Regions from separate parts of the Homo sapiens genome. Here region 2 is reported to be linked to region 1. Evidence: microRNA targets listed by miRTarBase, many of them from high-throughput screens and not tested one by one. Region 1 holds a microRNA gene; the other region holds the end of a gene's coding sequence.
Evidence for each region. The annotated mature microRNA hsa-miR-1261 reads AUGGAUAAGGCUUUGGCUU and lies in region 1 at 4,080-4,098, opposite strand. An mRNA with a match to its seed (bases 2 to 7 or 8) in the 3' UTR can be bound and repressed. Matches are read on the target gene's strand: a 7mer-m8 pairs with bases 2 to 8, a 7mer-A1 pairs with bases 2 to 7 and ends in A, and an 8mer does both.

Region 2: the mRNA of FCAMR is a reported target of hsa-miR-1261. Seed matches in the 3' UTR shown: 7mer-m8 at 937-943.

The regions. Positions count from the first base shown.
Region 1 is chr11:90,865,101-90,872,217 of GRCh38, forward strand. MIR1261 (microRNA 1261) reads right to left here and starts at 4,102; the gene lies at 4,021-4,102. All of the region lies in intron 6 of DISC1FP1 (DISC1 fusion partner 1), which reads left to right.
Region 2 is chr1:206,952,170-206,959,275 of GRCh38, reverse strand. FCAMR (Fc alpha and mu receptor) reads left to right here. Exons shown (of 8, transcript NM_001170631.2): 8 at 600-1,309. The coding sequence ends at 760. Among named protein-coding and RNA genes, the nearest start is that of PIGR, 9.3 kb to the right of the region's middle.

The sequences.
Region 1 (7,117 bases):
TCTTATTCTCAGGCCAGGCACTTGTATCTGCCTCAGAATAATTACTGAGCTTTGAGGGCATTTTTTGCAGTGTCTATGCTACCGCCAACTCCCTCTACTTTCATCAGCAAAATGTAAGGCTTTGCAGACAATGCAATATGTGAAAAGAAATAACACATATCATCAGAACCAACACTAGTCAAGGGTAAAACTTTAAGGAAACACATTCCTTTAAGGAAACAGAAACACACACACACACACACACATGCACGTGCACACACATACACGCGTGCGTGCACACACACACCATGTTCCTTATGAGGACAGTCTCTCTATATATCCTATTTACTACTTTGTATTTTTCGGGACATTTCTTTATGCATATACATCTTTCACTCTCATACTTAAAATATAAAAAATAAGTAAGTTTTTAAAAATCCAATTAACTTTTTCAACTATGACTTTTTCAAACCTTTGCCTTTGCATACTTTGTCCCTAGCACTTTAACACTATTTGAATATTTTATAAATCAGGAACTTTCCAGTATATAATGAAAAGCTACAAACCTACACAGTTCCTCCATTTTCATTTAACAAATAATTATTGAGAATATGCTAGCTTTTGGGAAAACACTGGTGAGAAAATATAGTACCTCACTCTGTTTTGTTCTCATTTGGAGTCATTGGACTTTCTGCAATTTACTTGCCTTGTCCTATGCTCCAATACTGGAATTTTCCTACAAATTGACCCTGGATGTCCCCACCAACCCCCACCCAACCCCTGACTTTTGGTATTGTGTTGTCTCTGGAAAAAAGCCTACACTCCAATTCTGTCCCCATGGTCAACATCCCACCTTAATCAGATTTTATTTTTCCCAGCACATATCCAATAGTCCTCTTAAAATGGTCCTCCTTATGCATAAACACATACAAACTGACACTAACAAACAAAGCCACAGGGCCTATTTAGAGAGCCTAGATAACTGACAATTCTACATGTTGTAACTTCTAACTTTCCTCTCCTCATTCTACTAATCATCTTGTCTTCTGTCACTTACCTCCACCTCCTTTCTTTGCTTTCATCATAGATTCTCTCTCTCTCTCTCTCTCTCTCTCTCTCTCTCTCTCTCTCTATATATATATATATATATATATATATATATGAGTGTGTACGTGAACATCTAAGTAGGAATTTATTTTATTGCCTTTATATTATTAATCTGAAAATATCTTGGCTCTTGACTTCACAATCTGAAAGCCATAACATTTCTGCAATTTACTTTTATTGCTTAACTTTGTCTTTGTTGTTATATGTTTAGTATTTTATATTCACTCAGAGACCATGGCAATGGGTGCACTTTTATAAAGCTAAAAATTAAATGAATAAATTATAAATGAATATCGTTTCCTGTACACAAGCCCAGAGACTGAGGAAATGGCTACATTTTCAAAACCAGAATATAAATAATCATTTTTAAATCTGGGTGCAGAGTACATTTATGTAAATTACGTTCATTATTTCACTTTACAATTTTAAAATGTCATCTTCTGTATCTAAAGAAGGCATCAGGACTGTTACCCCAAAACCAGAGGTAAAAATGGCCCATGTTTCCATTACTCATTCTTATTATCATACTTTCTCAGAAATGGATTTGTAGTGTCACTTTCTCTGGTTGTTATATCTTTGCCAAGAAAAGGAGATGTAAGAATTCTAATGTTTGATACCCAACATGAAGACAGGTAGGATCACCTCTTGATTGGGCTATAACCTTACTGTGGAAGTTCTCACTTGAGAGATCCCAGCAAAGACTACTATGTGGGATTCAGTAACCAAACAGCCTCCCTTAAAGCACTGTGGCCTGCTTCTCTCACCAAAACACTAGCAAAATTAGGTTTTACTGTAGAGACAAAGATTGCAATGTGATGTGGCACAACATAAATACATCCTTGTAAGAATGATGGCAAGGAGAATTGCAAACAGTCAAGAAATCTTCCCAATTTTTGTTATCACCTGATGATGGCACCTTAAGAGTCTCCTCCAAAGCTCTTCTTCCCTCTGCAAAATAGTTATAGATTTTTTTTCATTCTCCATTCATTCTTGCTTACAAAACTGAGAGCTGTAATTCTTACAGCCTTCATTCTCCCCATTTTTACTGGAGTTATATGTTCATAGGAGACATCTTTCTGAGATGGTACTGAATAACAAGGTGAAAATAACTAATAAACATTATATAGAGTGAACATCAATCATGTCATTAAGAGCAAAAAAGTGTTTAGAAATATGTTTCTTTGTCTTTTCTATTTCACGTAATACTGATGCTTTGGGTAGTGGGGGGGAAACACTCCCCAAGGTTTTTTGCTGCATCTATCTTATAAATGATTCCCTTTGATCAAAATCTAGTGCAAGCTCACCTTTTTTAGAGTCATAGAGGCAATGATTTCATATCACAGTATTTTGACTCTTGACAGCTCAGTGGGAGTAAGGAAAATGAGGAGGGGGATTATGTAAAGGAGAGGAAAATGTTGGGGAGAGGAATTCAAAGTCAGGACAAAGATGACAGGCAAAGCATGAGAGCAGCTGTACAAAATGTTACTTGCTCTCTTCTAGAGATTGGTGTGCTGGAGTGAATGACAACTACTAATTAAAATGGTGGCTTATTATCATGTAAGAAGTGACACAATTTGTCTAAGACCTGGTGTAAAAGATGAATCACTTTTATTTGTAGAAAATTCTAATTTAAAAATATGCATTTTTAGATGAACATCTGTGGTGTTTTTGACAGGAGACATGTGATAATTAAAACCTTTTTTATTTTCTGACTGAAATGTTCATATTATATTTTTGCTGTGTGCCAATTTTTATATTTCTATAAATAAGAACAAAGCAAGTTTTCTAGAACAACTAGAAGTTTATACGATTTATAATTTTTAAGTCCAAGTGTCAAAATTAGATACCTAAATCATGATTATAAGTTTGTATATTGCCAAAAAATATATTGGATATTAACTTTCCAACTTAATGATCTCTTTTTTTTAAATGGATTTCTATTAAAGCAGATGAATTGGTCTTTTGCAGGACAAATGTACGTTACTGTTCTCAAAACACTTACTGCCTGGTGCTTTTTTTTTTAACTTTTTGAGAGCTTAAAAAAGATAGCCTTGGATTTGCTCTACTTTATACATATCTTTCACAGTTAAGAGAATAATTCTCAAATTATACACATGCGGCAAGTAATTTTATTATTCCAAGTAAAATATGTATCTCTCTGATACCAAACAGTTGTTTATGATTTTCAGAATTTGTCAGGATAAGTTAAAGCATGCCATAAATGGACAAGAAAATGCCTCAATCAGATAAACAATAATACTAAATAAGCAGATGTTAATATAAAAAATAAAGGAATAACTTATTTTATTGCACTTCACTTTTTGGCCCTCTGCAGATGTTGTGTGTGTATGTGTGTATGTGTGTTTAACAAATTGAAGGTTCATGGCAATTCTGCATCAAGCAAGTATATTGACACCATTTTTCCAACAGCATGTGCTCACTTCATTTCTCTGTGCCACATTTTGGTGATTACTTCTAACATTTTCATTACTATTATGTCTGTTACAGTGATCTGTAATCAATGATCATCAATGTCACTATTGTAATGGTTACAAACTTAGCCCATATGAGATGGGAAACTTAATTGGCAAATGTGTGTATTCTGACTGCTCCACAGACCAGCTGTTACTGCATTTCTCTCCCTCTCCACATGTCTTTCTATTCCCTGAGACAAAACAATATTGAAATTAGTCCAATAATAACCCTTCAATGGCCTTTAAGTGTTCAAGTGAAATGAAGAGTCACACATCTCTCACTTTAAATCAAAAGCTGGAAATGATAAAGCTTACTGAAGAGGGCATGTGGAAAGCTGAGGTAAGCTGAAAGAGAGGCCTAATAGACAAGTTGTGAAAGTTAAAAAAAAAGTTCTTGAAGAAAATTAAAAATGTTACTTCAGTGAACACGCAAATGAGAAGAAAGCAAAATGGCCTCACTGCTGCTATGGAGAAAGTTTCAGTCATCTGGATAGAACAGATCAACCACAATATCCCCATAAGCCAAAGCCTTATCCATAGCAAGTCTCTAGTTCTTCAGTTCTATGAAGGCTGAGAGAAGTGAGGAAGCTGCAGCAGAAAAGTTTGAAGCTAACAGAGGTTGGTTCATTTGGTTGAAGGAAAGAAGCTTTTTCTGTAATACAAAAGTGTAAGGTGAAGTAGCAAGTGCTGATGGAAAAGCTGTAGTAAGGTATCTAGAGCTAAGATAAATGATGAAGGTGGCTACACTTTCCAACTGATTTTCAATGTAGACAAAACAGACTTATATTTGAATAAGATACCATCTAAGATTGTAGCTAAAGAGGACAAGTCAGTGCTTGGCTTCAAAGTTCCAAAGGACAAGCTGACTATTTTTAGGGGATAATGCAATTGGTGACTTTAAGTTGAACCCAATCCTTACTATTCTGAAAATCCTAGGGCCGTTAAGAGTCATAATAAACTATCTCTGCCTGTTCTCAATGGAACAGCAAAACCTAGATGGTAACTTGTATGCTTACAAAATGATTTACTGAACATTTTAAACCCACTGCTGAGGCCTGTTCCCCAGAAACTAGAAAAAATTCCTTTCAAAAGATTACTGCTTATTGATAATCATGTGCTCATCCAAAAGCTCTGATAGGGATATACACAAGGTACGTTTTCATCCCTGCTAATAAAACATTAAATCTGCAACACAAGGATCAAGGAGTAATTTAAGCTTTCAAATTCATTATCCAAGAAATAATTTTTGATATAATTCCTCCGATGGACCTGGGCAGAGTAAATTGAATACCCTCTGGAAATACTTCATTATTCTAGATGGCATTAAGAATGTTTATGATTCAAAGGAGAAGGTCAAAATATCAACATTAATGGAAGTGTAAGTGAAGTGAATTCCAACTCTCAGGGATGCCTTTGAGCGATTGAAGACTTCAGTGGGGAAAGTAATTGCAGATGTAATAGAAATTGCAAGAGAACAATTAGATGCGGAACTTGAGGATGGAACTGAACATCTATAATTTCATGATAAAACTTCAACAGATGTGGAGTTTGTTTTTATGAATGAACACAGAACATAGTTGCTTGAAATGGAAACTACTTCTGGTAAAGATGCTATGAACACTGTTGAAATGACAACATATTTAGAATATCACATACACTTGGTTGAAAAAGCAGCAGCAGGGTTTGAAAGGATTGACTCCAATTTCAAAAGAAGTTTTACTGTGAAATTCTACCAGATAGCATTGTATGCTTTGGAGAAATATGCATGAAGGAAAGAGTCAATCAATGCAACAAACTTAATTGTTTTCCTATTTTCAGAAATTGCCACAACCATTCTAACCTTCAGCAACCACCACCCTGATCAGTCAGCAGCCATCAATATCGAGGCAAGACTCTTACAGCAAAAAGTCTATGACTCTCTGAAGGCTTAGCTGGTTTTTAGCATTTTTAGCAATAAAATAAAGGTATGTACATTGTTTTTTAGATGTATTGCAATTGGAATTATTTTATATGCACTAGAAAACCAGAAATAAAAAATATGTGACTTACTTTATTGTGACATTTGCTTTATCGCAGTGGTCTAGAATAAACTTGCACTATCTGCAAAGCATGCCTGCATGTGTATTAAATGAAAACAGCACAGTTTAGCTTGGTATTTTATTTTGTCTTAAGTTCTTTTTCCAAGCCATATCTTTAGGCCTCTACTTCTATTCTCAAAGCAGTTTATTTCGATCTTCCCTTTCTAAGAAGTTTGTTGCTTCCTCATTTTTGTTGTCTTTGCTGTTATTTCTACACATATTTTAACCACACTGTCAAGACTGAGCACATTATGTGTGTTAGGGGTATGAGGAGGGAGTCAGTGAAATTAATGCATGCAGGAAAGATGTCGGAAGAACAAATCCAATAGAGATCTAAGGCAAGTGGCATAGGAAATACTGCCAGCAGACAAGAAGGTAGAATATAAAAACTAATATTTAAGATGTTTCCATTTACTTCCAGGAACTGTACTAGCTGTTTGACAGAAAGTATCTCATTAAATCCTCAATAAAACAGTGTAATATATTCATTATAATTTCTGTTGTAAAGATAAAATTTTTAGCTCAGAGAAGTATTCTATTTTTTACAATCACAAAGGCTATATAGAAATTACAGCTTTAATTCAGATTATATAGATTTCAAATACATGTGTCCCTTTCCATAATACACTGACTTCTAAGTAAAAAGAATAAATAAAATAAAGTTTTGATGTTTTAAAACTTCTTCTTCAATATGTATCCTTGTCTAATAGCTGGAATGCATCCTGTGACTTTGACTGGCAAAGGAAAAGGATATACCAGAACTTACTTTTTAAATATAAATTAAATATTAATACTTGAACTCCTTTCTCACACCATATATGATAATTGACTCAGAATAAATCAAAGACTTAAATGCAAGAGTTAAAACTAAAAAACAAAAAATAATCTCAGAAGAAAGCATGGAGAAAAATTTTCACAATCACATTTGATGGTGGTTTCTTAGATGAGATACCAAAGGTATAAGCAACAAAGAAAGAATAGCTAAAATGAACTACAATAAAATTAACAGTTTTTGTGCTTCGAATGATACCATTAAAAAAGTGAAAAATAAAGAGAAAATATTTGCAAATCATATATCTATTATATGACTTCTGTGTAGAATACAAAAACAACTATTACAACTCAATAATACAAAGACAACCTAAGTAAAAATTGACCTGGCTAGACATTTCCTCAAAAAGAATATACAAATGGACAATAAGCACATAGAAAGATGCTCAAAATCATTATCATCAGAGAAATGCAAATCAAAAGTTCAGCAAGATACCACCTCATACCCACTAGGATAACTGTAATAAAATATCAGATAATAACAAGTGTTAATGAAGATGTGGTAAAATAAGAATCTTCTTTCATAGCTAGAGAGAATGTAAAATGGTGCAGCCACCTTGGAAAACAGCCTGAAAGTTGCTCAAAAAGTTAAGCATCAAGTTACTATTGGACCCAGCAACTCTACTCCTAAGTAGATTCTGAAGAAAA
Region 2 (7,106 bases), not on the chromosome of region 1:
TGAACTCTTGACATCAAGTGATCCTTGGCCTCCCAAATTGCTGGGATTATAGGCGTGAGCCACTCTGCCCAAACTGCCTTGGTTTTTAATCAATAAAATTAGAAATTATCTCTGTACTTACGTGTCAATGGCATCCCAGAGCACAAGGAGAAGCTCCTGGAAGATTACAAAGGCTGTGATGCCTATGTTAACCATAAGCCTCATAAGCAACCCTCACAGCAGAGAGCAGGAGTGCAGGGCCCAGACCTGGGATCAAACCTCGCATTTTCCCCCTTTGGCAAAGCCCAGCTAAAATTCTCTGAGAGCAACATGCCCAGGTTTAAGTACTCTTAAAGTGAGGGCTCTGTGATATGTACACCTAGTGAAGAAAGGGTGAGATTTTCTGGCAGCAAGTGGAGGAGGCTAAGGTTCTCAGACCCAGGCCCCGAAGTCCAAGCCCTATCATGGGCTAGGCTGGCTTAGCCTAGCCAACTAGGGCTCCATTGCTTCTGTGTCAGAAAGTTCTTGAAAACTTGCAGTGGTTGGGAGTGGTTCTTAGGAAATCAAAGTCAGTGCTGTCCTTACCCAGAACCCTCACAGTCTGCTCTGTGTCTCTGCAGCTCAGGAGGCAGAAAGGGTCACCTTAATTCAGATGACACATTTTCTGGAAGTGAACCCCCAAGCAGACCAGCTGCCCCATGTGGAAAGAAAGATGCTCCAGGATGACTCTCTTCCTGCTGGGGCCAGCCTGACTGCCCCAGAGAGAAATCCAGGACCCTGAGGGACAGAGAGATGAACTGCTCAGTTACCATGGGAGAAGGACCAAGATCAAAGGCCTTCAGGACCCCAGCCTCTTTCCATCATCCTTCCTCCACCTGTGGGAAGAGAAGCTGATGCAGCCGGTGCTCCACCCATGGAAGAAAGGCTGGCTGTCCTTGGGCCCAAGAAAGTCAAGCATTATCCACGTCCAAAGGTGACAAGATGACTCAAAGGAGACTTCAAGAACAGTGTATGAAACACTGGAAGAGGTCACCTAGGAAAAGCATGAAATTTCCATTCCTGAATGTTTGAAAATAGAAGAGGCTTCCAATCAGTGTGGAAAGTGACAAATCCCCTATCAACACTCCCAGCCCTTGCTGGGGGCTCCTTTTCTGACTACTGTTAGCACTCAGCCTCCCATTCACATGTATTATATTTAAGTGTACCAGCCTTGCCTTCTCAAGTAGATTCTAAGCTCCTTTAAGGCAGTAATTGCATTTTATCTGTCTCATGATGCCCCCAGAGAACTTCCAACTCAGTAGGACCCCAATAAATACCTGTGTCTGATTGACTTGGGGGCTCAGTGGCCTCTAGGCACCCTTCCTCTGCAAGAACTCTGGGTCCCCCTGGGCTTCTGCCCCTCCTTTTGGGAGTCCCCTAGATGACCCCACAGGCAGCTGGTTTCTCCGCTGAGATCAAAAGGGCAAACACCCATTCCTCACATCATCCCGCCCCATTTGGACCCAGGCTTATTGTGCCGTAGACCTTTTGACCCGGCCAAGATTTTCTGGGATTTTCCTACATTCATGGAGGAGCAGGGTATTTTCAGTAGATTCTTGCTTTCTTCATAAAGGCCCTCTTGTTCAGCTGCTTATAAATCCTCGATATGGAGGACTGTTGGTGAAGCTGGAAAATGGTTTTTGGGGGTGAGGTGGGAGACAAAAGAGAGGAATTTTATGTGGATTCTGCCCTGTAACTACATCACCTCATGCTTGTCAGGGAACTTTCGCTCCACCCTAGGCCCCACTGCCTTTCCAGGAATCACATCCACTATTTTCTTTTGCCAGATCCGCTGGCAAACTGTCTGGGCTCCATTGTTGGATGGAACAGCCTGAGCGGTGGAGGCAGAAAGGAAAAATAGGCACCAATATCGAGTTGAGAATTGCCAGGTAGACATTTCCAGAAGGCTTAGTCCTGCCTTCTAAGCTGTCAGCAGCACAGAAATCCTTCAGTAATACCCCCTTATATCTGGTTCTGAACACAGACACTGTACAAAGAAAATCAAGGAGATGCCGGTTTTATGGCTTATAAGAGAAACCTGTTGTTTTGGATAAGTAGGAAAATTGCACACATCTAACCACATGGAATCGCAGAATTTCAGAGCTAACAGATCTTTAGAGATTAGTCTAATATCCTCATTCTAGAAGAGAGGGACTTGAGGCCCAACAGGGTTAAGGGTACAGGTGGGGGGCGCTTGTTTAAAGTCACCCAGTTAACCCAGTTAGTTATAGCACTGTGAGGACTAGCAAAGAGAACTCGTGACCTTGGTTCAGGGCCTTTTTCACTTCACCATTGCTGAGCATTGTACCAAAGCAAAACTCACTGTCAAAAATCAAGGATACCACAGTCGTCCCTCGAGACTATTTTCCTGTTCGCTTTCTCAATGACCTGCCCCAAATAATCCTGTAACGGAGATAGGACAGACATCATGGATCCTATTCAACCAATGAGGGAGCAGGCTCTGCAAGGTGTGTACTTCAGCAAAGGCCACTCGGAGCAGCCCACCTCCACAGCTATGTTCTGGATCGCCGTGCCCCTTGCTTGGATTTATGATCTAGGTATCTGGTCAGGTCCTTTCCTGTGTAAAGCTCTAAAGGCTCACTTCTTTCTCTCTCTCTCTCTTAGGCTTGTGCATGGAAGGTTTCATGATCATTCCCAGGAATTGGTTCTCATTTGTGGCAGGGATGGGCCCAGCACCCAGACTGTTTCTAATGCTAGATTCTCAGGATGTGAAAAGGTGTTCTGAGGAAAAGGAGGTTTGGTAGATTAATGAAGTTTTGGAAATGCTGGGAAACCACAAACATTCTTCTATGCAGGATCTTTTGGAGCCTTTGCTATATGGAGGTGTATTGTGAAACACCCTGGGTTTTCACACCTCGGGATGGGGACATAATGTGTGTTTCCCAGATGTGTTGGATTATTGTGTTTGATTGAAGCAGTCCCAAGGGGCTGGAGTTCCTCACATCACTGTTTGGGGAAGCCTGATGCACTAAACCCGGGGTTGGCCAACTCTTCAGTAAAGGGCCACATGGTAAACATTTTAGGCTTTGCAGGCCATACAGTCTCTATGGCAACTACTCAGTTCTGCCGTTGCAGCACAAAAGCAGCCAGGCAATCGAGAAACAAATGACCGCAGCTGTGTTCCAACAAAACTTTATTTCCCAAAACAGGAGGGAGGCTGGATTTGGCCCTTGAGCCAGAATCTGCCAGTCCCTGGACTAAGCCATGAAATTGTACAGGACTCTTTTGTTCCCACTCGGATCTGGAGATCAGATCCTATTCTTCCTCAAGGGCTTCCCTGACCACCTTTCTCCAGGACCTCTCCTTCCTCCAAACGGCTCTAATACTTTCATTGTGGAATTCAGCAGCTAGAATGTTCTGTCTGACTACCCCATCTTGGGGGAAGAAGGGGAGGGAGGAGACAACCAGCCCAGCAAGAGTGTTGGCCACGTGGCTAGAGCCAGGAGCGTTTCTAGCAGGGAGGCCGTTATAGGGAAAGTTAAGCTCCACCAGAGGTGGAGCTGGTAAGAGTTCAAAAGGCCAGGGCAGGGCCAGATTAGAGTCCCAGGGCCAAGAGTTTGGAGGGGGCAGAGATAAGATCTGAGTAAGAACTTTCAGGGAGAGAAGCGGGGAAGCCCCAAGTGTTCACAGCTCTCCTTTATGGGCTAACTGATCCATGGAGTAGTCAGGAGGGTTGATTTAAAGGGCCAGAGGCCAAACTGGCAGAGGAGGCCACCTCCACCACTTGGTATTGTCAGTGCTGTTGTTTTTCATCTTATACCTCCGGCTAGCATGATGCCTATACCACTGAGATGAGGGGCAGGCAAACATCTATCCCTAGGCCAGAATCAGGGAAGCCTCCCTGGGGATTTCTAACTTAGGATTAGAATCTAATCGAGGATGCAGGGAGACCATTGATTTTCACAAGATCAAGCAGATTCTCAGGTTCGGGTGCATTTCTGCAGTTCACTTTACACTGTTACTTACTAACGCTGCTACTGCTTGTTAACGTGTTTCTGCACAGCAGGCACTATCCTAGGTGTTTTCACATTGTGTATCACAGTTACGGTAACATTTCTGTAAGGTAGGTGTGATCATTCCCATTTCATAGATGGGAAATCTGAGGACCAGAGAAGTTAAGTTACACTACTCAGGAAAGGGCACACTGGGACTTCATGCAAAGCACCTCACCTCCACAGCTGCATTCTCGATCTTTGTGTCCCCTGCCTTCCCCCTTGCTTGGATGTATAGTCTGAGTATCTGGTCAGGTCCCTTCCTGTGTAAAGCTCTAAAGGTTTGCTTCTTTCTTTCTTTCTCTCTCTCTCTCTCTCTCTCTCCCTCTCTCTGTCTTTCTCTCTCTCTTTTTCTTAGGCTCGTGCATGGAAGGTTTCATAATCATTTCCAGGAATTGGTTCTCTTTAGTCACCTAACTAGTTTATTACAACCCTGGCCTAATGAGGCATTAAAAAAAAAAGTTCAGAGAGCCGGAACTAGAGCTAAAAATTCAGGCACCAGCCCTGAGGTCCTTGCTGACATATGTATAAAAGGAGCTCAGATCTTTATTTGTGGGGATGTCCATCTGTCTCAGCTTACTCGGGGCAAATGCATGACTCTAAGCCAACTTTTGAGAGCTCTCTGCTAATACGTTGGAGGTTTCTTCCTCTCCTCCAATAGCCCACTGTGGTCTGAGACATAAAAAATCAGTTTAATAACAGCCTCAGTCAGGCCCTAGGGGAAGATACCTCCACAGAGAGACCCATAACGCACTGCAGCCAAGTAGACACAGGTTATTTGATTGTGCTCACCTGGTACAGATATCCCAGAGCTGAAAGCATGACTAATGTGGAATGGAGAATGGAGATTCTACTCAGAAAGAAACAAACCCTGCATTCAGGGTCCAGCACCACCAAGCTCTTCATTTTTCATACAGTGACACAGCTTGGTTTACAGGTGCTGGCCTTCCCGGGCCAGCCTGCTCCCTTCACTGTCAGCAGTATGATGAGCTGTCATCCTACTGCCTACTCTCTAAGGGGCCAGCTGAAACCCATGTGGGCAGCAGAGAAGCGGCAGCCTTAGGAGAGAACCCCATGCTGCACCTCTACAGGCATGTGGTGATCACCAGTGCCAATGCCCCTGGCCTGCAGACCACTGTTTGCCTCCTGGATGCATTGCATCAAAGACATTGATTGAAGCCAGGCACCGTGGCTCATGCCTGTAAACCCAGCACTGTGGGAGCGTGAGGCAGGAGGATCACTTGATGCCAGGCGCTTGAGACCAGCCTGGGCAACATAGTGAGACCTCATCTCTACAAACAACAACAACAAAAAGACACACATTTACTGAGTAGGATCTGAACTCTTCTATGTTCTGCCTCTGCCACCTCTGGCCTTGTTCCCACTGCTCACTTACTTGCTACCTCTATCCAGATCTACCAGTTCTGCTGTGAGCATAGAGGGTCAAACAAAGGCTACTTCTTTCCCTGAGTGGCAAACTTCTGGCTTCCTAACCTTGAGTACTTTAGAGAAGAGGAAGAAAGCTAGGACTACTGTGTCCAAAGGTGTTTTCAGAATGCTCTAATTTGTCTGAAGATACTGTGTTTCATTTCAGACAAGAGTTCAAGAAAAAGAATTCAGACTGTGGCTTCTTTAGGGCCTGGCATGGGAAGATCAGACTGATTAGCAAATGCAACTAATCTAAACATTTTATGGGGCCAGCACTTTCCTTCCCTACCTCTGCCAGTGGAGTACAGACAACTACAAATTAATTACAATATACATCACCAAAAAGAAACATACTCCCATTCTAGAGATGGGAACATTGAGGCTCAGATGAACACAGGCTGCAGGGGATTACAGGGGCTATTTTTCCAATCGCTGCCTGTCAGGCAAGCCTTGGGCCGAGAGCCAGGCTCAGACCAGGAACAAGGAAACAGCAAGTCTTCAGCAGGACCCCAGTGGCTTATGAGAGGGGCTGGGCCCAGTCACCTGACACTCCACCTATTGACTTTGGATGTCTACTCCAAAAATCTTCCTCCTTCCGCTTCTCCCTAGCCAGGGTGTGGAGGTAACAGCACATAGGACAATGGTTGGGTAACCTCAAAAAAGGTTTGCTCATATGTCCCTGCCTCTCAGAAACAGAGAATCAAAGCTCTTTGGAGTGTAGAGACTAGACCCAAAGAAGAATTGAGAGAGCTTTTGGACCATGGCTGACTTTCCATTTCCAGGGCCTTTTTCTTTCTTTTTTTTTTTTTAAATATTTTTTTTATTTATTTATTTTTGAGACAGACTCTCGCTCCCTCGTCCAGGCTGGAGTGCAGTGGCACAATCTTGGCTCACTGTAACCTCCACCTCCAGGGTTCAAGCAGTCCTCCTACCTCAGCCACCTGAGTAGCTGGGATTACAGGAGCACGCCAGCATGCGCGGTTAACTTTTGTATTTTTAGTAGAGTATTTTTCACAATGTTGGCCAGGCTGGTCTCGAACTCCTGGCCTCAAGTGATCGCCTCACTTGGCCTCCTGAAGTGCTGGGATTACAGGTGTGGGCCACCACACCCAGCCTCCAGGGCCTTTTATGTTCCACTTCACTCCCCGCTCCCCACGGCAGGCTCCTCAGGGCTGGACACAGGCAATCTCAGGGGGCTCTTACCACAGTTTCTACCTTCACTCTTTCACCAGCCAAAATGAGAAAGGGTAGCAACAACCTCCCCACTCTGGGAGCCCCAGAAGAAATGTTGTTTTCACTTTCTGACTGAGAGGCAGCTGAGCTAGGAAAACAGTGAAGAATGGGACATCAGGGCAGTGACACAGGGAGGCAGGTGGTCAAGGAGAAGGCAGGGCCTCAGTGTGTTCATAGAGGAAAGTGAAAAGATTTGAGCATTGCATGCACACGTTTGGCCAGTGAGTCACCTCTCCAACACCAACTGAAGACTAGAGCTGCTAATCTGACAGCGGCCTTCCTTCCCTCTTCACGTCCCTGCACGCTACCACCCAGCTTGCCATCCTTTGACTTCCCTGATTAATGTTGTTCTTAGAGTTGACACAATGCTGCCCATTTGTACATGCCATATGCCCTGAGCTCTTTAGGAAGGAC